Linked DNA regions of Homo sapiens. The protein of the gene in region 4 interacts with the protein of the main gene of each other region in a pairwise test. Each region holds a gene or a part of one and is shown on either strand. Other genes may lie near its edges. The genes, in order: NAF1, CAMK2B, MAPK1IP1L and RBFOX2.

Evidence for each region.
Region 1: the proteins of RBFOX2 (region 4) and NAF1 interact in binary tests that used the Homo sapiens proteins (3 or more experiments, as listed by UniProt).
Region 2: the proteins of RBFOX2 (region 4) and CAMK2B interact in binary tests that used the Homo sapiens proteins (3 or more experiments, as listed by UniProt).
Region 3: the proteins of RBFOX2 (region 4) and MAPK1IP1L interact in binary tests that used the Homo sapiens proteins (3 or more experiments, as listed by UniProt).

Annotation. Positions count from the first base shown.
Region 1 is NC_000004.12:163,156,887-163,163,911, forward strand, and holds part of NAF1 (H/ACA ribonucleoprotein complex non-core subunit NAF1), read right to left. Parts: intron 1,442-7,025; exon of another isoform or gene 1,339-1,441; intron 1-1,338. UniProt on the Homo sapiens protein: RNA-binding protein required for the maturation of box H/ACA snoRNPs complex and ribosome biogenesis.
Region 2 is NC_000007.14:44,217,570-44,224,594, reverse strand, and holds part of CAMK2B (calcium/calmodulin-dependent protein kinase type II subunit beta), read left to right. Parts: intron 1-3,693; coding exon 3,694-3,769; coding exon of another isoform or gene 3,770-3,773; intron 3,774-3,884; coding exon 3,885-3,979; intron 3,980-4,300; coding exon 4,301-4,533; 3' UTR 4,534-4,535; intron 4,536-5,072; 3' UTR 5,073-7,025. UniProt on the Homo sapiens protein: Calcium/calmodulin-dependent protein kinase that functions autonomously after Ca(2+)/calmodulin-binding and autophosphorylation, and is involved in dendritic spine and synapse formation, neuronal plasticity and regulation of sarcoplasmic reticulum Ca(2+) transport in skeletal muscle.
Region 3 is NC_000014.9:55,046,968-55,054,651, forward strand, and holds the start of MAPK1IP1L (MAPK-interacting and spindle-stabilizing protein-like), read left to right. Parts: upstream 1-4,679; 5' UTR 4,680-4,836; intron 4,837-7,684.
Region 4 is NC_000022.11:35,808,820-35,815,844, reverse strand, and holds part of RBFOX2 (RNA binding protein fox-1 homolog 2), read left to right. Parts: intron 1-5,840; coding exon 5,841-6,065; intron 6,066-7,025. UniProt on the Homo sapiens protein: RNA-binding protein that regulates alternative splicing events by binding to 5'-UGCAUGU-3' elements. Prevents binding of U2AF2 to the 3'-splice site.

The DNA.
Region 1 (7,025 bases), on a different chromosome or scaffold from region 4:
ATAACTATTTTATCATACAAATGAAATTTTTGTAAATGTTTACTAACAAAAAATCAAAGAACAGCAAAAAGTTTTTCTGGACTCATTTATTCAATACTTCTACACATAACAAAGAGTAGGAAAGGAAAGGAAGAAAACTATTTCATTCACATCATTAGCAAATGAAAAGCTTGCATGGAAATAAACATCCCCAAACACCACAGCATTTCGCAAATGAACTACTAAAATTCAACATACTAAAGAAGCTCCACCATTTATTTCCCACACACTACACAGTTCCAAGTCAAAAGCTTTATTGAGAGGCAATATAATCCAAGCAAATACAATTTTAAAAAGCTTACATTAGATGATACATTCATCCTTCACTTTGAGAAAATATGCTACATGATTATTCAGAAACCAAATAATGAGAAAGTCCAAACGACCAGATTCCAACGTTGCTATGCAGGTCTCCACAAATACTAAAAACACAGCAGTTTGGAATGTATCTATTACCAGTTCAGATCTGCTCCTCCCCACTAATATGACTTCAGACAAGTCTCTTTCTTTCTGGTTTCATTTTTCTTACCTACGAATAGTAAGGAAACTGAGCACAAGTTCTAAACAGTTACACAAATGGCTAACGACAATTTAAATGTCCAACTGCATGTAATCAAAAAGACAACACATTAATACAGAAATTATATACTAGATCCCAATAAAAAAATTACTGTGCTTCTGTGATAACAGATACTCGTAACGATGGCATTAAAGAAATGCAAGATCCTAACCACACTTCTGGAATATCCATGAAAGAGCAATTATTGTCTGTTTTGTAAGATTATTATATTTTAATTTTCTAACATCTGTATGGTCTACAAGGTTATTCAGTTAAGCAAAATATTCAAAAGAGTACCACATAACATTAAAAATCCATCCTATTAAAAATGAGGTTATAGACATACCAGTCAAAAAATGGGTGCCTAAAACTTTCAATGCAAAAATGGAAGAAGCTAATATGTCAAAAGTGGCCCTCTGAAAAGGTAACATTTATAATTTACAACACTGTTGACTTTTCAAGCATTTGTGAAGGCTTATTGAGCAAAAAAGAGTATCAGTAAATTGATGACTTTCTAAAGTAAAATTATATAAAGAACTTTCAGTAGGATTTTCACTCACAAATATGGAAAAAGGACAACAGAGGTTGGTGGGAGAAGGAATCAAACATTCCAAATGAAAACTAAACCTTTTTGGTGTCAGTTTGGGGAGAATTGAGAAAAGTGAGGAAGGTGGGATGAAATTATCTAACCACTTTTCTCATATTACCCAACACAGGACATGCACGTGGCAGCCAATTACCTGATGCTATTAGGTGAGCCTTCACTTTTCAGATATGGTTGGAAAGTAGGATCCAATCCCTGGAGTACTGAGAGCCATGACTGAATTTTTTTTTTCTCTATAGCTGGTAAAACATATTGGAAAAAGAATGGATTAGGTCTGTACACTTTGTGTCAACTATGACCATACTTAACATGTATTCTAATTCATTAACTTCTTCAGGGGAAGTAATTTTACAAGTTTCCATGAAACTCAGCTATTTATCACCAGTAAGCATTAGTCCCCTCATTAATTACCCTATTGTGTATGACACTAAACTTAAGACTCAGACAAGTCAATTAAAAAATGAGGGTCAACATTTCTTTGAAGTGTCTTGATATTTTTCTTTTTTAAATGAATACATTATTATCCTGTTTTTCTCTAAAATTACTGTTAAGAGAAACAAAGTTCATAATACTTTCAAAATTTAATTTGCTTAAATATAAAACTATAGTCCATCTCAATAAGAAACCTCCAACAATGAATATAACTTTAAGCCTATCTTTCATGTTAATTGAGTGCATATTTCATCAACTTTAAGACACTGATTTTATATCACTAAGATAAAAAGACTGCCAAATAATTGTAAAATGCCACAGAGTATTAGCCTAAATTTTTCAGAAATCCTTATTACCTCCCCTTCCACTCAATCCTATCACTTCTTATGTGCAGTACACCATTCATCTGACATTCAACCATTAACTCTCTGGTGCTACTTTGCTTTCAGCTAAAGTGTATATGCTCATTCTCTAGTTCCATTGCTCTTTAACAGATATTTGTCTTTATCTTCTAAAGCAATCAGCAGAATTCACTTATTAGAAACTACTGAGGAATGGGGGAATCTAAACAATTGAATGTTTCTGTGTAATAATAATTATATATGTATATACACAGGACATAAATGGATACTCTACTGAATAAAACAGTATTTATTTCATGTTTATGAAATCATTCATGCCTCATGTAAGCTTTATTGAAATATTCTGTAAGATATAAAACTTTAATTTAAAAAACCCTGAGTATTAATTATTTTTGAAGAACACTAGTGAATATTAATGAAAAATGATCTTAAGTATACAAACCATTGCTTAAATAACAAGCACTTTGGGAAGAATGTTAATAAGTGCTATCAAAGTGTATTCTAAAATAGAATTTAATAGTTCCAAATATACATATAGTAATAAAAACCTAAGTTAAAAGAGGCCTGCATTCAGGACAAAATTTATAAACCAACTTATGCCTAGAAAACAATATATTCAATTGATAATTACTAAGTGTAGACCAAGATGCAATACAATTTCATATATGATGGGAGATCAAACAGGCATGAAATATTCTACTGCAACTTCCAACCACTTGAGTGGTCCAGATATTTCCATACATTCACGTTAGGACATTTTAGAATGTGTCCACACTGCCACAATCAGGAGAATAGAGTGTACTCAACCTAACTACCAAACGTACTTATTTTATAAAATAAGCAGTCACCAAAGTATGACAGCTAAATTTCCCCCAAAATTGCCAATAAGCATTAATTTTTTTCTTGGTCATGCTACATTATATGCCTAAAGACACATTATTATCCCTACTGAAGTATTATCCATTTCTTATCTCCATAAACATTGTGCTAATAATTTTTAAATGTTATGTGAAGCCTTTCAGGTTTTCAGAAAACAATGGGCACTAATTTATAAAACTCATTTCTGATTAAGACTTTAAAAATTATAATCCCAAATATTTTTATGACCCTACATTTTTAATTACACTTGATACATTTGAATGAAGAGTTCAGAGCATCAACTGCTGATAAAATTGTTTAAAAAGAATCTCAATTTTCCAATTCATCAAAACACTAAATACATCCTATGTGGCTCAACGTAGTTCCAAAGCTGTAATATGTATGCTGCTTACAGTGACTGTGTAGGTTATATATAAACCTTCTGAGCATTAAAAAAGAATTTATGTTTAAAAGAATAATTTTATCTAGTTAAACTTATTAATTGTGACATTATGAAGAGAGCCACTTAAGACTCTCCTTTTTCATTGCCACTATAGCTCGCTAATTCCTCTTTTATTCTCTTCCCCCTTAACGTACCCTCACATTAAAAAACAAAAACAAAAACAAAAACAAAAAACTGGGTTATAACCACATCTTGGGATGGCAAGATTTGGTTATAACCTAATTTTAAAAATTATATCTTTCTAAGGTTTAAGAACAATCATAAAGTTATTTCACTGTAGTTCTCATCTACCTAAAGATCTGCATTGTACATAGTTAGATCGCAGAGATCGAACAACCCACAATGGAAAGATTTAAAGGGATAGATCCAGAGAGGCGACATTCCTGCTTGAAGCACAGACTAAATGGAGGTAAAAATTAAGCTAAGCATGCCTGAGTGACAATAGGAAACTGCTAGAAAACTCTTTAGAAAGTGGTTGGACATAAAATTGGGTTAAACTGGGCTAAATTGGGCATGTCTATGTCCAGATCCCTGAAGGTCCAGCACAAATTCTAAAATTGGTTTTAACTGTTTGGCACACTTTAATTTGTGTATATCTTTTGGCAGAAAAGTTCATTAATTTTCTTCAGAATTTCATTAGATAGTTAATAGACCACATAGAGCTTGAAGCTCCATCTAGCTAAGATACACAACCTCTGCTGCCTAAAAGTCTAAGTGACATATCAAGAGGCCTGAACAAAATGGCACATACCACACAAGCTAGGAATAGTTGTGGAGAGGAGATGCTTCCCAGAAAGAATGGACTGTCATTTTCCAAAAAAAAAAAAAAAAAAAAAATCTAAGCTAAATAACAGAATTGTCCCAAAAGCAAGCAAGGAAATACAACACTAATTAGCCAGTTCATGGGACACTGAAAGCAAAAGATGCCATTTTTAGAGCCAGAGATACTGAAATCCATGTATAAGCTAGAATTAAAAAGATCAATCTGTCCAGGCACGGTGGCTCACGCCTGTAATCCCAGCACTTTGGGAGGCCGAGGCAGGTGGATCACCTGAGGTAAGAAGTTTGAGACAAGCCTGGCCAACATGGCAAAACCCTGTCTCTACTAAAAATAAAAAAATTAGCAAGGCGTGGTGGTGGGCGCTTGTAATTCCAGTTACTTGGGAGGCTGAGGCAGAAGAATAGCTTGAGCCCAGGAGGTGGAGGTTACAGTGAGTCGAGATCGGCCACTGGGCTCCGGCCTGGGCGACAAGAGCGAAACTCTGTCCCCCCTCACCAAAAAAAAAAACCAAAAAACAAATCTATAGATAAACAGAGGAAGCCAACCAATAATGAAAGAATAAAATGCCAGAGAACTGTGAGACTATCCAGAGGCATGTAAAAGAAACAGTGTGACTAGCCTTCACAGCTGCCTTAGTTCCCAGCTGCTTTCGAATAAACTTCCATTTCTCCTGAGGTAATATGAGTCTCTGCTCCTCCTAACAATGAGTCCAACATAAGTCGTACATGATATCACTTCCAAGTATTTCCCTTTCCCTCTAGTGAGTATAATCCGTTGTTACTGTCTGCCCAGCATCCCCTTTTGGAATGGATATAAGCTCCCTTTCCTGTGAAAGATAAACCATTCCATGTGGTTTATATAGGGCTGATATTACACCCAACATCCCACCCTCCTCACAATACATACACATTCACACTCCCTTTCTGTCAACTGGCTGTTACGCACTCCCACCCTCTCGCACTAGCCCATGTGCTCTTTCAAGTGTTCATTTTCCTACACATGCTCTCCTCACTCTCTCCTACACACTCGCCTACACAAACAGGAGTGACTATGTGACTCACAGCCAAGCAATCTGAATACCCATTCCACTAGCCTCAATGATCTGTTCAAGGCTGTGTTAACAGACCATAAGCCAGCAAAAGTCAACTCCAAGACTTTCATGCAAGAGTCTATCAGTGGTAAAACTGCCAGCCCTGAGAAACGGACAAAGAGGCAGACTCCTAAACACACTACATACCTGTAACTATACACTATCCTTAGTACTCAGGACAAAGTCATTCTTTTCCCCCAAACTTAAGATTTGAAACCCCGAAGAAGTCCTTATATCTTCTTTCAGACCTGTAAGCCAGAGATTTAGGGCAGACTGGGAAACTCATCAATTCCTCTACCTATCTCTAGCAGCACAGTGGTCTGAAGGACTTCTAATAAGTTTCCCAAATAAAGACTATAATTGCCTCTTCCATCATTCCCAAAGATCCATTGAAATGGTCACAGAGAGGAACAGACCAACCCATCATTCCAAGTTTGAAAATCTAATAACATTCAAATGGAATTTTGTCTTTCGAGGCAAACATACACTTACACAATTCAATAGCATTTTTAGCAATTAAATTTATTTGTCTCCACTTTATTTACTGTCTGTGTCTCTCCATTAGACACTATGAGAGCAGAAACTGGACTGGTCTTGTTTACAGCACCTGGCAAATGGCAGGTGTGCTATAATAATTTCTTAAAGAATTAATAAATATAAAATGCCTATTCACACACTCATTCTATAATCATGTATTACTTTGGCCTGAGAACCCATTATCTATAAAGCACTCCACTGGGGACTATGGGAATTACAAGGATCACATATGAACTCAGTCCTCAAAGAACTTGTTCTTGGACTCCTTGTGGCCACAAATCCTTTTTGATCTTCTGATGAAAACAGGGACATTCTGTTCAGAAAAATACCTAAACAAATATGCTAAGACTTTGCATTAAATTGGAAGAAATTCCCAAGGTAAGAATTGCAAATCTAGTAAGACAATGATATGTATGCATTTACAGAAGTACTGTGGTCTTTTCTTTGTTCGTTATTATATTCTAATAAGGAAATTATGTAGAAAAATGATCAAGAGACAAGCAAGAAAGACCAAACAAGTCTCCTACTTTCAGAAAATAGTTATGCTGGGAGCCTTTGTGTACAAAGACCACTAAGAAATATTAACATATCTGTAGCATGAAAATATGAGCCACTGATGAAGCTGCATACAAATCCAAAGGTCTTCAAGTTATAAAGCATAAGCGAGACGAGAATTTCTTGTTATGAGTAGAGAAAAAGAGAAATAATTCAGACTGGCAGAATCCATTCATGAAAAAGGCTCCTGAGTGCCTGTAGGCTTTAATTTATTTTTTCAAATCTTGCATTAAACTATCTCATCAATTTAAGTGTTATATAAGAATTATGATTAGTGACCATTAAATATTTTTAAAGCATTAATAATTAAAACTACATGCAGGGGTAGAAAAAAAACAATGTGATAATATGGCCTACATTCTGAAATTCTGAGAAGGCTTTCCTCTTGGGTCATAGGTTTCAATCAGACTAACATCATCCTCCTAAGGATGTTTACAGCATAAGAGGAAATAACCTTGCAAGAGTTAACTTTGCAAACCAAACCTATCGAGTGCCAATAAATACCATTCTACAATTAACAAGTTTTCTCCAACTGTAATAATAAAAACACTCCAAAAACTTCAATAGGAATCCTAACAAGTTCAACCCTCTGAATTTCATCTTCTACTTCTCTAAATGCAGTCAATTAAAAAGTCAATTGCTATTGAGCAAAATTTTCTGACGTGCAGACCAAAAAAATTGATTTCAATTGCTATTGAAATTTCAATTGCTATTGAGCAAAATTTTCTGACGTGCAGACCAAAAA
Region 2 (7,025 bases), on a different chromosome or scaffold from region 4:
GCCTGCCTGGACCTGTTGCCTCACCCCAAGAGAGCCACAGGCAATGCAAAGGCTCCTGTTCATGTCAGGGCACCTGGAAGGCCTGACTTGCAGAGGCTCTTGGCTCGTGCAGACCCCTCCAAGCCCAGGCCCTGCCCACCACCTCCCCTTTGTCTCTGGAACTGCCAGGACAGCTTGTCCTCAGCCAGCAGGTTTCCCGACCCGGGCACCTCTTCATGTTGGGCCCCCCTCCTTTCCCTCCATCAGGGATCATGCCCTTCTTCAGGGGCCTGGATATCAAGGACACAAAAGCTCCCATGTGCTATGTGGGGAGGCAGAGTGGGGGCTGGGTTGAGCTGGGGTCTGGGCAGCGCCATTCCGCAGGGCAGGGGCAGCCTAGGCTTCCCATCTGTGGAATGGGTGGGTGGGTCTCACAACGGACCTGCTTCCCGTACTTCAGCACGGTTACCACTCTTGATTGGAACTCTGACCATGCATCTCCTCTTCTGTTTACTTCACGCTTTCTCTTCCCATCAACTCCCATTTTAATTACAATTTGTTTAAAAGCACTGCATATTACTTCATTAAACAGAAGATTAGTTTCACTTACCATTAGTGTAAGGTGACTATAGAACCAAAGCAGACTGGAAACCAAATGACATAATGTCATTCTCTTCTCCATTCCAGCTGCCTGCTGCTGTGCGCCTGAGAACCCCTGTGGAGTGGGAGGGGCAGCTGTCTCTGTACATTAGAAAGGGAGGTTAACTAAGTGACAGGAGGTGTTTGGGACATGTGGACACCAGACTTCTCTCTTGATGCAAGGAGGGCAGAGCCAGGCAGCCTAGTGGGGGCTGGCTTGGGGGCTGCTGGAAGGACTGGCTACAGGTGGAAGAGAGGTCAGACCTGAAGCTTGGGGCCACCTCCAGGAAAGGACAGGTGAAAGTGGAGGCATGAGGCAGGGGAGAGGCAGGTGCCAGGCAGAGGGTGGAGAGGAGGCAGGAACATAGCAGCTGGGGCGGGGGCGGGCCTCAAGTGTCATATGCTACTTTCCTGGGGCCCAGGGGCAAGGACAGGAACAGCCACAGCATGTGTTGGGACAGAGCCCTGTGCCTTCCTAGAGCTGGGCAGGTGGAATGGGGCAGGAATGGGACTCGTGGTGGCTGCAGCAGGAACTGGAGGGGAAGGGGCTTCTGGATCCTGCAGCCTACCTTCCTAGAGGCCAGCTTTCCGGGGTCCACCAGGTGGGTGGGAACTGGGCTTGTGTAGCAAGACTGCCCTGAGGACCATCCATGACATGGTCTAGATGAAAGTTAGGAAAGAAAGGGAGACAAGCTGGCAGCAGAAGTACAGCTGGGTCAGGAGCAAGGGCCTTTCCAGATAGGGACAACCCAAGAGTGCACATGTGCCCACGCCACACAACACAGGCACACACGACACGTGCACGCTCATAGGCACTGCACACACACATGCACAGGTGCTCATGCATATGTATGAGCTTCATCTACACACATTCACATGCCGTCCTGCTTATGTGCATGTTTCCATACATGCACATGAATGCACAATCACGTGTACACACATGCATGTGATCACATACATGAACATGTGTGCACCCCACTCCTCAGGTGCCATCGGGCTCCTCCTGCTGTCACTGTGCAGCAGGGGACATGAGGCCCCAGAGCAGACAGGTGCAGCACAGGCGTTCCCAGGCAGTGCCCCACACACATGCATGAGCACACCCGGGCATGTGGCGCCTCCTTTGTGGACTCAGTCACCTGCCAGGTGGGCTCCCTGGTGGTGTGAGCTCCCAGAGGTCTGGCGAGAGAGATAAAGGCAACCCCACCACCAGGCGTGCTGAGAATTCCCTCTTCTGGCTGGGCACAGTGGCTCATACCTGTAATCCCAGCACTTTGGGAGGCCGAGGTGGGCAGATCACTTGAGGTTAGGAGTTTGAGACCAGCCTGGCCAATATGGTGAAACCTCATCTCCACTAAAAATATACACACACAAAAATTAGCTGGGTGTGGTGGTGTGCACCTGTAGTTCCAGCTACTCGGGAGGCTGAGGCAGGAGAATCGCTTGAACCTGGGAGTCAGAGACTGCAGTGAGCCGAGATCATGTCACTGCACTCCAGCCCGGGTGACAGAGTGAGACTCCATCTAAAAAAAAAAAAGAATTCCCTCCTCTGGGAATTTAGACCACAGACAGGTTGCATGTATGTGGCCGTTGGAGGCAGCACTCACAGCAAAGAGTGGAAACGTCACCACAGGGCCTGCCTTCTGGTGAAAATGGTGTCCTGCAGGGCGGGCAGCTGTTTGAGGGCAGGTGTCCCAGGTGCGGCCTGCAGCAGCCTGAGGGTCACAGAGCGCAGTGCTGGGAGTGCAGAGACTTCCCCCACAGGGAGAGTTCCCAGGAACCTGCTTCCGGTGCACTTCTGGGGGTTTGAGTTTTTTCCACGGACGAATTACTTTGAGAAACCACTGTTACTCGTGTGTATAGGTGAGCGTGCGTGTGCATGTGTGTTCTGTGTGTGAGTGTGCATGTATGTGCGTGCCTGCGTATATATCCTCGCAGATACGGCTAGGGACCTCACTCAGGACAGTAGTTCTGCCTGAGGAGAGTGAATGCGGCAAGATTGAGGAGAACACAGGCATCTTCAAACTACATGTGCGGTGCTTTATTTCTTTAAAAATGCGTCTAAAGCAAATAGGAAAATGTTAAGATTTGAATCCGTAGAGTGTGGGTTCTATTATTCTCTCCACATCTTCCATACGTTTAAAATCTTTTGCAATGAAAATAAGCTGTAGTTAAAGCAGCAATGCAGGCTGCCAGTGAGCGCCCCGGAGGCCAGTGAGGACCAGCATGGCTGGGTGGCCTGTTGGAATCCAAGGGGGGCGGGCAGGAGCTGCAGGCAGGCGCCCGGGAGTAGCCCGGGCATGGGGGTGCGGGGCAACAGGGATGTCTGCAGGGGTAGCATGTGGGCCCCGGACTGCAAGCAGGTGGAGCCAGCCGGATGCGGCTCCTATGAGAAAAGCGGGGAACAAGAGACCACGCTCGTTCTTCCTGCTGCGGGGACAGCCCTGGTCATCGCTCCGGGGAACCCTGCAGCCTGCGCCGCACGTGGCCGCCCCCTGCTGCTTCCTCCTCCCCGGCCTCCGGGTGGCCTTGCTGACGGCTCCTTCTCTGAGGCAGGTCTCTGCCTTCTCGCCTGGTGCCTGCACTCAGTAGCCCCCTCACCAGAGCTGCTGGGTGAAGGAAGCACTAAGAACCCAAGGCTCGGGAGGAGAGTGGGGCCGGGAAGCTGCAGGGAAGCGCAGGGCCAGGCCTGGTGGGCCCAGGGGCTGGCTCACGGGAGGGCAGGAGGGAGACTGTGGCGGACAGCACGTGGGGCCAGGAGGTGACCTCCAAGTGGATTGTGGGTGGGTTTTTTGTCCTCTTTCTGCATTTTCCAGGCATTTTGTAATGTGGATAGAATATTTCTGTTCTTCAAAAATACTTTAGTTAAGAAAAATAAGATGGAAGCTGTTGCACTTGAAAATGAGGAAGCCACTGGTGATGCAGGGGGGGCGGCGGAGAGGACCTCTTCTGCAAATAGCGGCAGGAACACGGCATGGATGCAGCTCGCGCTCCCCCAGGCCCTCCCCTGGGCTGTGTGGAGGGGTCCGGGGGGAATGGGCCAGCGCCCAGTGGTCACCTGGCCATGTCTCCCCACAGCCCGGAAGCAGGAGATCATTAAGACCACGGAGCAGCTCATCGAGGCCGTCAACAACGGTGACTTTGAGGCCTACGCGTGAGTCCCTGGGGCTGGGGGGGGGCTGTGCAGGACAAGGATGTGGGACCCTTGGGGGGGCCTGCTCAGAGTCAGGGGTCCACGGGGCCCCTCCTCACTTGGATTTGGCCCCCAGGAAAATCTGTGACCCAGGGCTGACCTCGTTTGAGCCTGAAGCACTGGGCAACCTGGTTGAAGGGATGGACTTCCACAGATTCTACTTCGAGAACCGTGAGTGAGGAAGCCCGGGTGGGCATGAGGGGGCGGTGCCCCCAGGAGAGCCTCTCGGCCCCTCCCAGGGACAGCATGGTGGCTGCCTATGGAAGCCCTGTCCCCTCTGTGCCCAGGGTTGGCCAGCCACCTCTCCCCCGCCAGAGGCCATACCCAGCCCCCAGAATCCCACTCTTGGAGGGGCCCATGCTGCTCCCAGGAGAGCCGAGCCTCCCCAATAAGGGGAGTTGAGAGAGGGAAAGGATTAGGCTGGTGGGGTGGAAGACGGGCACCAGGGCAGTCATGGTAACCCGAGACCCCCGCCCCGCCTGCTGTCCACAGTGCTGGCCAAGAACAGCAAGCCGATCCACACGACCATCCTGAACCCACACGTGCACGTCATTGGAGAGGATGCCGCCTGCATCGCTTACATCCGGCTCACGCAGTACATTGACGGGCAGGGCCGGCCCCGCACCAGCCAGTCTGAGGAGACCCGCGTGTGGCACCGCCGCGACGGCAAGTGGCAGAACGTGCACTTCCACTGCTCGGGCGCGCCTGTGGCCCCGCTGCAGTGAAGGTGAGTGTTCTGTGCTAAGTGACAGCTGGGGCAGAGGGGTGGCGGTGGTGTGAGTGGCTGCAGCCTGGGGAGGCGATGGGGAGCGGTGGGGCCTGTGCAGAGCCATGCCTGGGAAGTCCCTGAGCTTTCCTGGTGAGGCCACAGGAATGATGTCAAATTAGGGACCACGGCAGGCTGGGTGTGGCAGGCCTCCCCAGAGGACTGGGGAGCTGGTGAGGGCCTGAGCAGTCCACACTGGCCAGAGCTGGGTGGGTTGCAGGTGGATGGGCCCCGGGCAGCACAGTCCTGGGCACCATGCCCTGTTTGTGAGGACTGTTAGAGCCCCAGATGGGCGTTCCCCAGGTGGTGGGTGCAGCGGGCCCAGAGCCCAGTTTTACAGGGATAGTAGTAATTGGGTTGGGCACCTTGAACCTCTCTCCCGAGTGGGCCCTTTTCTGGACTTTAACCCTCTCTGCAGTGCCGCATGGCAGACAGCAGAGCCTGGGGGTGGATGGGAGAGGGGGCTGCTGAGGAGCTGACCCACCCGCCCCATTTCAGAGCTGCGCCCTGGTTTCGCCGGACAGAGTTGGTGTTTGGAGCCCGACTGCCCTCGGGCACACGGCCTGCCTGTCGCATGTTTGTGTCTGCCTCGTTCCCTCCCCTGGTGCCTGTGTCTGCAGAAAAACAAGACCAGATGTGATTTGTTAAAAAAAAACAAAAAAAAAAAAAAAAAAAACAAGATGACGACGACAACCACAAAAAAAATTGACATCAGATGAAATGAAAAAAAAAAAAAACAAAAAAAACTAAAGGAAGGAAAAAGCTGTAAAAATCACTGGCATTCGTGGGGCCACTCCCCACCCAAGCTCCACGTGTGTCCGTCTGTGCTCCTGGCCTCTGGGGGACCAGCTGGGACATGAACTTGTCTGCCAGGCCCCCGTCGCGTGCTGAACGGTGTTAGTTTGTAGGTAACGCACACACCCCACACCTAAGGTGTCTGCATCCTCCTGCCAACGCATGGGCTCCACGTGGTGTGCTCGCTGGCTGTCGTGACTGTCAGCTGTCTCTTGGGAGGGGCTGTGGGGGCCCGCTGGGCTGCCTCCTTTCCCGCTAGTTGTGCCTGAGAGTTGCTGTTGTTCCTGCTTTCCCTTCCCTTCCTTTCATCCCCTGAAGGGCTAGGTGTGGGTTTTCCGTGCCCGGTATCCCCACACACCCAGCACGGACAACCCTTCGGCAGAGCCCAGGCCGGCCCCTCACCCCCTGGAGTATTGAAACTGGAGTCCCGTCCCCAAGGCCTTCAGAGATGCCCCTACACACCCAGGGCTCCAGCTCTGGTCCTTCTGGGGGAGTAAAGTGCAAAGAGGGGCACAGCTTAGTTTTGGGCCTCTCGCCGAGCAAGAGACAGCACTGCTGGCTACAGCTCCAACACAGCCAGCTGTGGCAAGAGGACTCTGCCTGGGCTGGCCCCCCTCCTGTGTGAGGTGTCTGTCCCTTCTCTGCTGGCCAGCAGCAGATGCACTGGCAGCTCCCAACCCTGTTTCCGCCCCTCGGCCCTCCCCCAGCCTGTTCGGCTTCTCTGCAGCCCGCAAGGGGGAGCAGACTTTTGACAAAGGACTGCGGGCCTCGCTCAAGTCCCTGAGCCCCCAGCTGAAGCTGGGAGGGGAGGCCAGGCTTTGTGTCTGGGCATATTCGTCTGCTGATGGGGTTTGGGGAAGCCTGGGGCTTGGGGTTTGGTCGGGTGGTGCAGCTAGTGGCAGAGCGGGATCAGAGGTGGTGGCTGCCCAGCTTCTGGGCTGAGACAAGGGTCTGTGCAGGGGTTTACTGAAGTGGGAGTGCCTTTGGAATCTGGGCCGGGAGCAGAAGGGAGCAAAAGCTACAGTGGGAGCCAGCCTAGGGCACATGGGAGGCGTGAGGGCAGTGCTGCCCGTGCAGTGTCAGGTGTGCCAGTGCCTTGGCGGGCTGCAGTGCGTGTGAGGGCACCTTCTAGGTGGGCCAGGGATGCAGCTATGGAGATAAGGCGGGCTGGGGACAGAAACAGGTGGGCACAGGGCCCAGGACACCAGCGGATGGAGGGCAGGGTCTAGCCCTGTGCTCCTGAGCGTCGGCTGCCTGGGTTCGAGGCGGTGGGTCCCCGGCCCCTTGTGATGGTGTGTACCATGGGGGAGCTCGGGGACAGGGCAAGCCCGAGCATGGTGGGGCTGCAGGGTGGGTCTGAAGCCAGGTTGGGTGGGGGTGGTCACAAGCCCTGACTGCAGAGGGTCAGGGGCTCCTGCCCCAGTGCCTGCCCACTTTCAATTCACATTGTTTTCAACAAGGATTTTCTTTATCTTCCCCTACAAATCAAGCCAAGGGAGGGGCACAGAATGGGGAACAGGACACAGGATCCTAAACTCCAAGGGGACTGTCCACCGATGAACACTCAGAGTGGACACCATCTTCCGTCCACGCTGTGCCCAGGACAGCTGTCCCCATCCATGAACACAGGGTAAACATCTGCCGGGCTCCGCACCA
Region 3 (7,684 bases), on a different chromosome or scaffold from region 4:
TGCACTATATAAATGAGTAAATTTTGAGAGGAACAATGTGGGAATGTATAAATTTGTCTAAAATTTTATAACTGTTGAACAAAGGGAAGATTTGAACAGTGTAAATTCCAGAGTTGAGAAAGCATTTAGCATGGTGGAAATGTGGAGAGCTTATTGGTGAGAGAGGATGGAGCTAAGAGAAATAAGATCAAATATTAAAATTAGGAATTTAGGCATTACCTCAGGGAAAAGCCTTGACAGTGAAAAGAAACTACTTAATCGCTAATAGCTAGTCTGGACCAGACACTTAACTGCGCTTTGGGAATCATCCTGGGCTAATCAGGAAATAAACTTGACTTTTCTATTTTTCTCTGAAGCTTTACAGGACATACTCCCACTCCCATTTTTTTCTAAGCCTACAGCATCTTGATTCATAGTATAATTCCTGAAGTATGCTGAATGGACTTTTTAAGGTTCCTTTAGCATTTTTGTATAGAGTTATATGTGATCTTTCTATAACCATGCCATTCACTTAAATAATTCATGAAGGGAATGGTTTAATTTAAAGGAAGACCTAATAGGAAGAAGATTAAAGGAAGCTTTTAGTCAGCCTGTGGCTAGATTTATTGATTTGGTGATCAAACCTGTGCTATTTCCTGAATTTCAGCTAATGGCCAACTGTGGTCAAAGAATGGCTTTCAGTTAAAGTTTTGACTTCTTATTATAAATAATATAAAGAATGTCTCAGTAATTAGAAATCCCTTAATAAGTAGAACAAATGTGGCAAGTAGGACTCCTATCGGTATACAAATTCCATTTCTTTTTATAAGAAAAACACATAAACCATTATCATTTATTCATGAGCCAAAGCCATTAAGAAGATAAATCCAGTTATCAGCTTCCTGTCTCTGAAGTTTGGATCATTTTATAGATCCACGCAATAGAGAGCTTCCTTCCTATGAAACAAAAACCTTGAGATCTCTTTTTTTTTGAGACAGAGTCTCGCTGTTGTCAGCCCAGGCTGGAGTGCAATGGCGCAATCTCGGTTCACTGCAACCTCTGCCTTCCAGGTTCCAGCAATTCTCCTACCTCAGCTCCCAAGTAGCTGAGATGACAGGCGTGTGCCACCACGCCCAGCTAATTTTTGTATTTTTAGTAGCGATGGTGTTTCACTACATTGGCCAGGCTGGTCTCGAACTCCTGACCTCAGGTGACCACCCGCCTCAGCCTCCCAAAGTGCTGGGATTACAGGCATGAGCCACTGTGCCCGGCCAAGATCTAACTCACGCTTACTTTTCATTAAAATATTTCTTGTCGCTTTTAGCTATTGTCAGAATCCAATAAACAGCTTACGCATTCATTTTGGTAAAGCAAATTTCACAGGAAAATAGACAAAATTATAAGAGATTCCTGGAGACAACACAAGGAAAACAATGTTTAAAAGCAAAATAGCCTGTGTAATGTTAGGTAATGTAATGCCCAAGTGAATAAAAGATTTTTCGTCAAGCAAACTACTGTTTCTACTTTGGGGGAAAAAAGTCAGTTTTACATTTGTAATTTAAGGAAAGAACAGAAAGCACAAAGGTTTTTCTTTTCTTTATTAATGGCCTACTAGAAATGAGCAGTGCAAGAGTCTACCTGTACTATTCTAATACAGTAAGATATTGGACACAAAATGGAGGTAACTTTTTAAAATAGATTGGCTTGGAAGTTGAAATGTAGATTAATGGATATAACCCAATAGAAAGGGATTTTCAAATAAAACCAAAGTCTATTTTTTTATTTACTTTCTAATTTTGAACAGATGACTCAGTCCTAAATCTTTGCCTTTATTTCCTATAAAATGTAGGTGATACTTGTAACTCGACTTCCTGGAGTTAATTCTTCAGCAAGAGGTGACCCTGGGAGCGTACTTTAAAATAATTGCTGTACAGCCATTGAGTACTAACATGATGATAGGTTTTCAAAATATCTTTGTAGTGGATGCTGCATAATTACATTCACTTCTCTTAGACTGTAAAAGACTTTCTTGACTTGTTTTAACAGTAGAGATAGCAGTACAATTTGAATTTATGGTTTAGGCTCTGCAATTAGAGGAACAATTGCAGTTTCCTCCTACCCTTCATATGGTCTGTGTAAAACTGATGTTTGCTTAACTTATTTTAAAAGTTGATTACGTTTTCAGAAAATAAAGATAATCACTTTTGCCATGGTTATAATCAAATCTAAGCTTTCAGACTTGAGAGCCATGGTGTAAAACTCAAGGAGGTTTATTTAAATTATGCTGACTTTGCTAGAATTGGATAAATTCTGTATAAGCCAAGTATGAGTTCACATGTACTCGAATATACAGTTTTCACAAAGCTATTACTCTCATCAGTCAGGCTTGTATGATCTATTCCTTACCACAAAAGAAGTAGACAATTGCCACTTTTATTTCTAATCCTTAAGTTGAATGTTTCTTCTTGGATGTAAGTTCAAATAAATTGATCTGGATAAATTTTCATTTCTACTTAATTAAAACTTCCTATGTAAAATCCAAAGGCTTTGTGTTTTATTTTAAAAACATAGTCTTTACTTCACACATTCAACTTAGAATCTGAAAAAGATAGAGAAACCCATATTCTTACATATTTTCTAATTTATAATACACTCCTTTTAGTTTTTTTGTGTTTGGGACTTCCAGAAGCAGGTGCCAAAATGTGATTAGAGGTGCAAGAGATTTATTTGGAGTGAAACACCTAGAAAGATAGAGAAGGGAGCAGAAGGTGGGGAATTCTTCATACCACACAGAAAGTCTGACACCTAGAAGGAAGGATTGGGTAGGGGAGCTTCGGACTTCAGTGCATCTTGAGACTGCTAGATGAGGACTTGGTTCCCAAGCAAAGGTTGCCTGTAGAGAAGCCCACAGGGACAGGAATGGCCTAGATCTAGACCCCTCCAACGTGCTCAGCTACTGGCTGATTGCAGGCAAGGAAAAGTTGGAGGCTATCCATTACTGGTACACAGCGCCAGGACTAGGGTATGGTGAGGCACTTAGGGACAAATATTTGACTATACGACTAAGGAAGACAATGTTTTGGTACAATATTGTAATATCTGAATTGATGCAAAAAAGCCTATGATGAGCAAGATACCAAATTTCAAATCAAACCTGACCAGATTACTGATTTCTTGTTGCTTCAGGTTTCAGCATGGCTCAAGGCACTGCTGATTCACTGTCACCAGTGAGAACAGGCTAGGTCCACACCAGTCGTGTAATTTTCCATAGGCCTGTGTGCCCTTACCCAAAAATAAGACTCTCGGCTTAGGTATTTGAAGTTCCTCTGTTGCCCCTTTTTCAGTGTGAGAATTGTGTGTGCTGTGGAAAACATCCAGGGATGTCTTCCTTTAAACAAGTTCATGGTTAAATGGCCACCCACTCACTCACTAATGCCTTACACAAAGCAAGATGCAAGTGTACCACATACTTTTAGGATATTTTTATATCTTAAAAAATGTATATTGGCCGGGCACAGTGGCTCACGCCTGTAATCCCAGCACTTTGCCGAGGAGGGCGGATCACAAGATCAAGAGATCGAGACCATCCTGGCCAACGTGGTGAAACCTCGTCTCTAAATACAAAAATTAGCTGGGCAAGGTAGCGCGCGCCTGTAGTTCCGGCTACTTGGGAGGCTGAGGCAGGAGAATCGCTTGAACCCGGGAGGCGGAGGTTGCAGTGAGCCGAGATCGCACCGCGCCACTGCACTCCAGCCTGGCGACAGAGCAAGACTCCGTCTCAAAAAAAAAAAAAAAGTATATTGCATATATGTATATATTTTGCACACCATATAATTATCACGACATCTTTATTGCTAGTTAGTAGGTTCCTTGACTGGGGTCATGTCATCTGTGCCTGACACAGGAGGTAATGTTTATTCAGAAATGAAGATGGCGGCTGGGCACGGTGGCTCACACCTGTAATACCAGCTCTTTGGGAGGCCGAAGCGGGCAGATCGCTTGAGGCTAGCAGGGTGAGACCCCATCTCTATCAAAAACACAAAAATAAGCCGGATGTGGTGGCACATGCCTGCAGTCTCAGCTACTCGGAGGCTAAGATGGGAGGATTGCTTGAGACCAGCAGGCAGAGGTTGCAGTGAGCCGAGATCGCGCCACTGCACTCCAGCGTGTGTGACAGAGGCCCTGTCTCAAAAACAACAAAAAAGAACATGGGAGAAGAGGCATTGATGAGGAAAAATCTACAAAGAAAGCAAATATCAATTTGTCAAGCTATTTGCAAACGTCTTCCCTTTCCTGTATTAATATTTTCCCTCTCCCCACTTTTGGCCCGAGGATCTGAGTCCTCGGGTCAGGCCGAAATCAGACCGCGTCCATACCCAGCCTCCTTCGAGGCCTAGCTGTAAAAACCGCTGAGCAAAAGGAATCCAGAATCAGCCCTCAAGCAACTCAAGACAAGTTAGCAATTTCCGCCGGGAAGCCGTGAACATCGGCAGCCACTGGCGTTTCCTCCGAGTCCTCGGAACTCCGGAAACTCTGGGAGCTTTTAGCCCGCCCACCAGGGGAAAGCGGCCCGGAGCCGGCGCCAGGTGGAGCCCATCCCCCTAGGCCTGGCGGGCCGCAGTACCGCCAGGGGCCTGCGGGAGGCGCACGCGGCGCGGCCTGAGGGGAGGGGGAGAACGGGCGGAGGCGGTGCGCTCGGCGCTTCCTGTTCCGGCGCCAGGAGGAGCCGCGCGCTGCTGGTGCTGTTGCCGCCGCTGCTCTAGCTGCCGTCAGTCAGGCTGCGCCCGCGTCTTCAGGGCCCAGTCCCTCGGACCCATCGCCGCTTCTAGACCCTACTGCGGTCTCGGATATTGCCGGGTGAGGCTGCTTCGGTACTAGTGGGAGTCGTGAAGGGGAATCGGGGAGCTGGGGTTGCGGAGCCCGCGGGCGCGGCCAAGCGGGAAGCGGGCGCGGTGACCGAGGTGCATCGAGTCACGTCCAGTGCTCGGGCCGTGGTCGCCTGCCTGGCACCAGGACTAAGCGTTTCTATCGGTCGCCTTCCTCCACGCTGCGGGCTGCCTGGGGATCGCCCCCCAGGGAGAAGGTGTCGGAGGCCGCTGACGTCGCGCCCGACGGGTTTCTGGGCGCCTGACGTCAGGTCTGGCTGCGGGGCGGGGCGGGCGCGGGCCGGCCCCTCCCCCACCCCTTCCCGGCGGGCGCGACCCGCTAGGAGGCCGGTTCGCTCCGGTTGATCCCGGACTCCCTTTGTTCGTGCGTCCCTAAACGGCTGCCGGCCTCGCGCCCCTTGGCCCCGATTTCCCCTCTACCCCCACCCTATTACACTCATTCATTAATTTTTAATAAAAAGGGAAAGGCCTGAAAAGATTCTTACAAGAGTCTCGGGCGCTTGTTAATCCGCAGTGTGACAACGTTCTGGTTATGACTTACTAGAGGAATTGCTCACGGATACATTAGATGAATACCCAGGGCAAACCACGAGAAGGGCAGAATTCAGTGATCTCCTTTTTTAGGACTGAGGAGCACATACCTGCGATAGCGTATGCATAGCTGGACCGTTTTCCTCTTTACCTTGAAAAGCAAGAGTACAGCTTTTAATAGGTAAAGATTCCAGTGTTAAAGCATGAAGCCAGGCTCACTCGACCGCAAGAATTTTTTTTAGTTTTACTACTAGAGAAATACACACCTGGGGGTTGTAAAGGTCTGTTTCGAAAAGGAACCCTCATTACAGGCAAAGGTAGCCTTCAGAAACATTTCATAAGTTCTTTGTTCACTGGTGTTCTTTGGGGGAAGAATAGAAATTTTTCATGCTGGCATCTCTGAGCCCACAATGCAAAGCGAGTTTGCTTCAGAAACTTGGAGTGAATTGCAAATATTGGAATGTTCTTTTCCTCACTCCAGGCGGAATGGGTAAAATCCATCCCCAGTCTCTTAACTGAAACTTTTGAAGCTAGTGTGTTTTGAATTCAAAAATACTTGGATTTTATCTTCATCTTTTTAGAAAGTCATGTTAGACGAGAGATAACACCCCCAGCAGAGTGGGGCACCCCATAATCCAACATTAATATTTGCAGCAATAGATGTGAACATTCATTCTAAGTGGGGGCGAATAGAAACTATAAATAGCTTCAGGTCACATTTTGCCACCATGTAAGTTTTGTGCCAAACTAGGGCAGATAAAGATTTATGGACCTAAAAGTAGGCATCATAAAAGCTAATATTTGTTGAGGTTTTGCTATATTCCAGGCAGCGACTAAGAGATTTGTTTATTAAAAGTTTTACAGCAAATCTATGATGTGGGTACGATTCCGATCTTCCTTTGCCTCAAGTTTGGAGAGTTGGACTTGTCAACTCTGGCCGAACCAACCAGTGAAGAGCTGCAGTTATAGCTAGATAATCATACTTTAACGTTTACTTTTTTACCTATAAGCTAGATGTCCACATACAAAGAAAAGAGAATTTGGTATTTGTTTTCCACCCAAGCACTATTTTTTTAGGCACTTGATTGGACAGAGTCCCATTTAGTTCCTCGCAACATTACTGGCCTGGTTTTTATTTGTTTTGTTTTTTAAACTGCGTGCTTTTTACAAATAGTATGGCCTGTTCTTTATAGTTCGGGTTCATTCAGATGAGCCGACTTTTAGTGAAATAATTCAAACCCTCGTCTAAGGTCACTCTGCTAAGACTTTAATACAACCCTTCCCTTTCTCGCTATATTCTAACCCATCTGAACTGCTTATACCTCCCCAGAGATTCTCCCAGTTTTTACACTAACTGCTCTTCTTTCCCTAGGGCCCATTTCACCGCCCTCTACTCCCGGCTCTTTCCTTATGGTCCTTATGGACTGCAAAAGACAGCACATCTCAGGAATCTCCATGTAATACTATAATTTCTCTAAAGGCCAACACATTGTTTGGCATATATGTTCCAATAAGTATATAACTAAATGCCAAGAAATATTGCAGGTTGCATATCCTTTATCCCAAATGCTTGGGACCAGAAGTGTTTCAGATTTTGGATTTTTTTTACATTACACCAGTTGAGCATCCAAAATCCAGAATGCTCTAATGAGCATTTCCTTTGAGCGGCATGGTGGCACTCAAAAAGATTCAGATTTTTGAGCATTTCAAAACCCCCGTTTTTGAGTTGCCCAAATGTAAAAAATGGAACATAAGCAGATAAATGAGCCAATACTAAAAACTAGCATGTATTCTAATTTATAATTTATATTTTCTTTTTTTTTTTTTTTTTTGGAGACGGAGTCGCTTACTGTAAGCTCCGCCTCCCAGGTTCCAGCGATTCTCCTGCCTCAGCCTATCGAAGCGAAGTAGCTGGGATTACAGGTGCCTTCCACCACGCCCAGCTAATTTTCTGTATTTTTAGTTGAGATAGGGTTTTACCATTGGCCAGGCTGGTCTTGAATTCCTGGCCTCAAGTAATCCACCCACCTCGGCCTCCCAAAGTGCTGCGATTACAGGCTTGAGCCGCCGCACCCGGCCATTAATTTATATTTTCAGTACGATACATATCATCCCCCCATACTAAACAAATCAACCCAAAAATTTTGATTTCGCTTAATTTCGCCTAACAAATATCTAACATGTATATAGCACTTTATAGATTAAGTGTGTTACTATTTTCTGTGCAGTGGGCAGGAATTATAACTTCTACAGATGGAAAATGGTCTCTTATTGAGAAGTTTTTTGTC
Region 4 (7,025 bases):
AATGATATAATTTGTAAAAATACTTAAAAGTAAAAACATTTTATTTGTATTATAATCCTAGAAAATTAATTTCCATTTATAAATAGCACTAGAAAAACTATTAGTGACATTGTCAGTGGTAATAAACTGGTGAGAATATGCTCTACCAAAATAATGAAGTGATTCTTTTATGATGGTGTGAATAAAATTAATATTGATCTGTTTGTGTGCATGATCCATTCTGACCATATATGTGGTATGGGAATTGAGAAGCTTTTAGGATTTGCAGCCTGTTGATTAGAAGCAATACAATAGCAGTTTATGTATATAAGTGGGACTCAAGGTGACCAAACTGAGAAAATTAGAATGAAGTTGAGGAATAAATGAGAAGATATAAACAAAAATACACCCTTCTCTCTCAAAGATTACATAGACTTTAGTTATCCTAGAAATATGAAGACAATTATATTTTGGGTCATTTCTGTGTTCTCTTACAGTACTGTGCATAGGTTTTAAATAATATTCAGAATAATTCAGTAGGAACAGAAAATATGCTAAAGAATCAGTAACAAAACAGTTTCACCTGCTCTCTCAATTAATTTTCACACCCACCTCTGAAGTAAACAACCCATCTGGTAAGTGGTATAATTGGAATTTAAACTCAAGTCTGACTTTTAGGTTCATGCTTTCTTCTGTTTTACTACATTCCATGTAAACTGGGGAGAAGGCACATGGTTGGACCTAGAAAAAACACTGAAAGTCACCTGTCGGTAGGTGATGATTGAACCTCTGAGATTGCTGTGGGTAAGGCAATAGACTGTTGAATGGGTTCCTGTTTGACGACTGTAATACTATAGTTGTCTGTCCATAGCCACGGGTTCTGCATCTGTGGATTCAAGTAGCTGCGGATTGAAAAATTAGGGTGGGAAATTGGATGACTGTGTCTGTACTAAACATGTACAGACATTGTTTCTTTTTAGGAGACAGGGTCTCCCATTGCCCAGGTTGGTCTCAAACTCCTGAGCTCAAGAGATCCTCCCTCCTTGGCCTCCCAAAGCATTAGGATTACAGCTGTGAGCCACTGGCCTGACCAGACTCTTTTTTCTTGACACTTTTTTCTTTTCTTTTCTTTTTTTTTTTTTTTTTTTTTTTTTTGAGACAGGGTTCCACTCTGTCGCCCAGGCTGGAATGCAGTGCCATAATCATAGCTCGCCACAGCCTCTATCTCCCAAGCTCAAGTGATCCTCTTGTCTCAGCCTCCTGAGCAACTGGGACTACAGGCACATGCTACCATGCCCAGCTAATTTTTAAAAATTTTTTGTGGAGACAGGATCCCACTATGTTGCCTAGGTTGGTCTCAAACTCCTGGGCTCAAGTGATCCTCCCTCCTCAGCCTCCCAAAGATCTGGAATTACAGGCATGAGCCACCATGCAGGGCCTTGTCATTATTTTCTAAACACTACAGCATAACAACTATTTACATAACATTTACATTGTACTAGGTATTATAAGTAATATAGAGATGATTTAAAGTACACAAGAGGATGTGTGTAAGTAGGTTATATGCAAATACTATGCCATTTTATATAAAGGGCTTGAGTATCCAAGGATTTTGGCATCTGTGGTGGGCGGGGGCTGGGAGGTTCCTGGAACCAATTACCTGCAGATATGAAGGGACAACTGTATGTTTGAATTCAGAATGAAAACATTTAGCATATTTCACATTGTACACCAAAAGGCTGTATATAATATGTATCGCCTCTGTTACTATCTGTGGTTTAAAAGAGAAAGACATCATTCTCAACTCAGAAATTAATAGTTACATTTGATTTTCACTCACAGCTGGTCAACAACTCTTAAAGCCTGTGTTTGTAAGACAGAAGGAAATTAAGTGCATAAAGCACAAGCATGTAAATGTTGATTCTTTGCTTTCCTAATGCTTCCCCACTTCTACTTTCCCATCCCTGCACTCCAGTTTGATATCAACCCAAGATACCAACACTTGTTTCACTCTGTGTTATCCCTTGTTATGCTCTCTAGCCCAACAAAGCAGTTTGCTGTAATGTGCACACACCTGACTTTCTATCTCAGTCTTCCTCTATTTCATAAATGTTTAACACTTCATATTTATTATGTACGATGTGGGATTCTACATTGTACAGGACTGTCTCCACCCATCATAATGAGCCTTTTAATCTAATAGGGGAGTTAAAATACATATTTACGTTTGCTAAGTATGAGGCTTTAGATTTCAATGTCTTATAGGGGATGCAAGCTAAATGTTATAAGAATATAGGAAAGGAAGGAATTACTTTTAACTGGAAACAGAAGAAAGTTTATAAATTGCTAGGTTAGGGAAAAGAGCTATTCTGTCTAGCCTTGTGGACTAAAGAGAAAGCTAGTAATTTCTTTTCTCAGATGAGATATACTTAAGCAGCTTAGCCTCTGGTAATAGAAACAAAACATTTTTATATAAGTATAGAGGTAAATTCATACCTAGAAATACTCATGTGAACTGTTATCTCATAGTTTGCTGAAGGCTGTTGTACTTCTCTTCTGAGCATAGAACTTTGGAATATGGCCTGGAAATTTAATACAAATCTGAAACCATTTGACATTTTTAATAATGTATACTTGGGGAAATATTCAGACATTGCATGCTATATGAGAGAAAATGTTAAATCACTCCTATCCCAATTTCATTCCCTTAATATATAAACAATTGTTGTTACATTTTTAACAAAAATTTTAAAAGAAATTTCTGTAAGTAACAAAATAATCCACTAAGAATTTCTTCTTGACCTCTTAAGGGAGGTACATAACCCCTCTAGGAAAACAGAGCCTCTGCCTGGCTTGCATTTCTGTAAAACGCCTAGTGCCTAGGCTACAAGTGGATTGCAGGAAATGTTTTTACCTTTCTCCCCATCTCCCACTGCTAATTGATGTGTTTATTCAGTTATCTGAGTCAGCCCTGTTGAGAATAACGCTGTGAGAGAATTCATACTGTGTACTTGTGTGCCAGAGTCTCATTCCCAGCAGGCTGGGGTGGAGAATGGAGGCTGGAGTAAAACGAGGAGGCTGAAAGGAGCAGTGTCAGAGCAGGAGAAAGTCGCCTTGGCCTTGTTAATCCTAACTTGAAAACTCTATCTTTTAGCTTTTACCAATTATTTAGTAGAACTTTCTTATGGATTCCTGTGAGATTATATTTATGCCTGATGTGGGCATAAGACCTTTGGTGCTCTTATTGTGTTTCATTCACCAGTCCACCTGAATTCCAATTCAATTCTTTTTCATGTCTGTCTTCAGGCCAGTAGATTCAGCGAGGGCTTCTGAAGCAGTATGTTTCATATGGCTAGAGAGAGACAGAGAGATAGAGCATTGAATAATTTGAAGGGGAAGGGAGATAACTATTTTATATCTCTCGTCAGATGCCCAGAATAGCTATAAAGACATCATAAAAACTATCCTAACCTAGAAATAACGTAAAGAAGTTATATGGTGATGGGTGACGAAGATAGACTTTTTCCAAAAAAATTTAAAGTTTTCATAACATATTTTCTAAGAACTAAAGAGAGGGGTTTTTTTTTTTTTCTATCTTTTGAGATGGAGTCTCACTCACTCTGTTGCCCGGGCTAGAGTTTAATGGCAGCGATGTCAGTTCACTGCAATGTCCTCCTCCTGAGTTCAAGCGATTCTCCTGCCTCAGCTTCCAAGATATCTGAGATTAAAGGCATTTGGCACCATGCTTGGCTAATTTTTGTATTTTTAATAGGGATGGAGTTTCACCATGTTGGCCAGGCTGGTATTGAACTCCTGACCTCAAGTGATCTGCCCGCCTCAGCCTCACAAGGTGCTGGGATTACAGAAGTGAGCCACCACACCCAGCCTTTTTTTTTTTTTTTTTTCCCTTAAGAGACGTGGTCTTTCTGTTGCCCAGGCTAGGGTGATGCAATCATGGCTCACTGCAGCCTCCAGCTCCTGGGCTCAAGCAGTCCTCCTTTCTCAGCCTCACAAGTAGCTGGGACTACACATACCACCATGCCCAGCTAATTTTTTAAAGTTTTTCTAGAGACAGGGTCTCTTTGTGTTGGCCAGGCTGATCTTGAACTCCTAGCCGCAGGCAGTCCTCCCATCTCAGCCTCCCAAAGTGCTGGGATTACAAGGGCATGAACCATTATGTCCAATAGCAGGAAAATTTTTATGTAAAGCAATTTATTTTTATTTTTATTATTAATTTCTGTTACAGAATCTTCATTCCTGCCTTTACCAGTTTGCAAGGGCTGCCATAAGAAAGTATTACATAACAATATAGCAATGTATTTTCTTACCATTCTGGAGGCTAGAAGTGCAAGATCAGGGTGTCAGCAGGGTTGGTTTCTTCTGATGTCTTTTTTGTTGGCTTGTAGATGGTCATGCTCTGTGTCTTCACATGGGCCTCCCTCTGTATGTGTCTGTATCCACATTCCCTTTTCTTATAAGGACACCACTCCAATTGGATTAAGGCCCACCCTCATGACATCACTTTAATTACCTTTTTAAAGACCTTATCTTTAAAAACAGTGACATTTTGAGGTACTGAGGGTTAGAACTTCAACATACGGGTTGGAGACTGAGCACAACTCAGTCTATGACTCTGCCCCTTCCCACTGATAACTGTAATCAGTTCATCACTTTTTATCTAGACTGTGGCAGCCCCCCACCCCCAATTCTCTGCCTTTTTTCTTTCACCACTATTGTGTAAAGCAGTTTTTATTACCAAGTAGAAATGATTCTTGGACATTGGAGACAGCTGAATTTTGAAGTTGTTTAACTTTTAAATGGAAGAGAGTTATGAATTTTTGTTTCAAGGTAGGTCACTACCATTCTCTTAAGAGTAACACAGTAATTCAGTGTTTCAGAATATTGGCTTCCCCTTATTGATGATATATTTTTTGTCATTCTCTTTAGTATTAAAAACAATATATTTGTATAGGTTTTATTACAAAAGTAATATATGTTTATTATTGGGGCACAAGGAAACTTTTGGGGGTTTTGGATATATGTGTTGACTATCTTGATTGTGGTGATGATTTCATGAGAATATAAGTGCATATATCAAAACTTACCAAATTGTATACTGTAAATAAATAAGTGCTGTTTATCATATGACAGTTATATCATAATAAAACTGCTTAATTTTTTTGCTGATTTGATGACTAAAGACTTGGACTTACTTTGATGTTAATGTGAATTTTCGTGACAGTTAGTGAGGTTGAGCATTTTTATTAGTTGTTTGTATTTCATTTTCAATGAATTGTTCAGATACACAGTTTGCCTGTTTTTCTCTTGGGATGTGTGTGTGTTTGTGTGTACATGTGTGTCTGTCTTGTCAACTTGGTTAACCCACTCTGGGACTAGTGATAATAACCCAGCATCTCTCTTACCTTTTGCTAATATTTTCTCCTAGTTGATTTTTCTTTTTTGTTTTTCGTATTTTTTAGGGACAGAGTCTCTCTCTGTGGTATAGGCTGTAGTGGCTTGTGGTCCAAAGTGGGCTCTCCACCTACTTTTAATTTAAAGGAAAGATTTTTGCCCCTTTGGCATCTAGTCCACTTAAATATGGTTGTGGGCCTGTCTAGTAACTACACATTAACAAAAGTGAGTGTGTGTGTGTGTGTGTGTGTGTGTGTGTGTGTGTCTGTCCACATACATATATCTATGTGTGTATGTGTAATAATATTTTCTCCAATCCTGGAGCAATAAGCATTCCATTTTACCTATGCAGTGAGAGAATATTCAGAGAATTCCATATACTCACTTTAAAAATAGTTACGTAACAAGGATTCAAAGTCACTTTTTCTTTCTCTTGTTGTTTGTTTTAGGGTAACCAGGAGCCGACAACAACTCCTGACGCAATGGTTCAGCCTTTTACTACCATCCCATTTCCACCACCTCCGCAGAATGGAATTCCCACAGAGTATGGGGTGCCACACACTCAAGACTATGCCGGCCAGACCGGTGAGCATAACCTGACACTCTACGGAAGTACGCAAGCCCACGGGGAGCAGAGCAGCAACTCACCCAGCACACAAAATGGATCTCTTACGGTACGTGGACCATGAGGTGAAAAATGGAAGGATGCATGGCAATCATATAGAAATTGTCGCCTTAATTATACAATTAGAAGACTCTCGGAATTAATTTAGCATTTACACCTGTTCTCATTTACACCTTCTCTCAACAGCATTGTATACATTGTCCTCCCTCCTCCTAGAAATACTTAGTCTCTTGGCTTTTCGAGCTCTCCCAATTTTCCTGCCAAGCACTGGGTGTTCTGCTCCTGCCTCCTTCTCTGTTCAACTTTTAAATGGTGCAGTACTCCATATGTAGGTCCTGGAACCCCTTTTCTTTTTATTTTATATCCTTTCTCTGCATAATTATACTACCAAACTCAAGCAAAACCTAGGAATATTCTTTCTTTCTTTCTTTCATCTGTACATCTAATTGATTAGCAAGTCTTGACAACCATAACTCTAAAACTACTTCGTCTTCTTCTCTACATCTTATTACTCTTCCACCAAATTGCTTGTGTTTGAATCTCAATATGGCCCCTACTAAACTGTGTGACCTTGGACCAGTTATTTAATCTCTCTGCCCTTGGCTCACTCTAAAATGAAGATAATAGTACCTACCTGAAGAGGCTGTTAGGAAATTTAAAAGAATTTATCATCATCACTGCTCTAGTCCAAACCTCATCACTTATTTCCGGTATTACTGTTGCCTAACTTATCTATCCTCCACATAGGACTAAGGTGGTTTTTTTTTTTTTTTAATGCAAATGCCGATTTCCTACTTAACTCTTAATAGTTCCCTAATGCAATTAGAATATAATCTGAACTCCGTACTTGGTTTACTAGTCTCTAGCCCCAGCTTACCTCTTTGACTTCACCTCTTACTACTAACTTGCTAAAGTAAAGGAAATGTCATAAATTAATAATAGGTATATATCTCATACATACCAACATATGGGAAATTGTATTGTCTCTTGCTTTGTTGTCCAGGCTGGA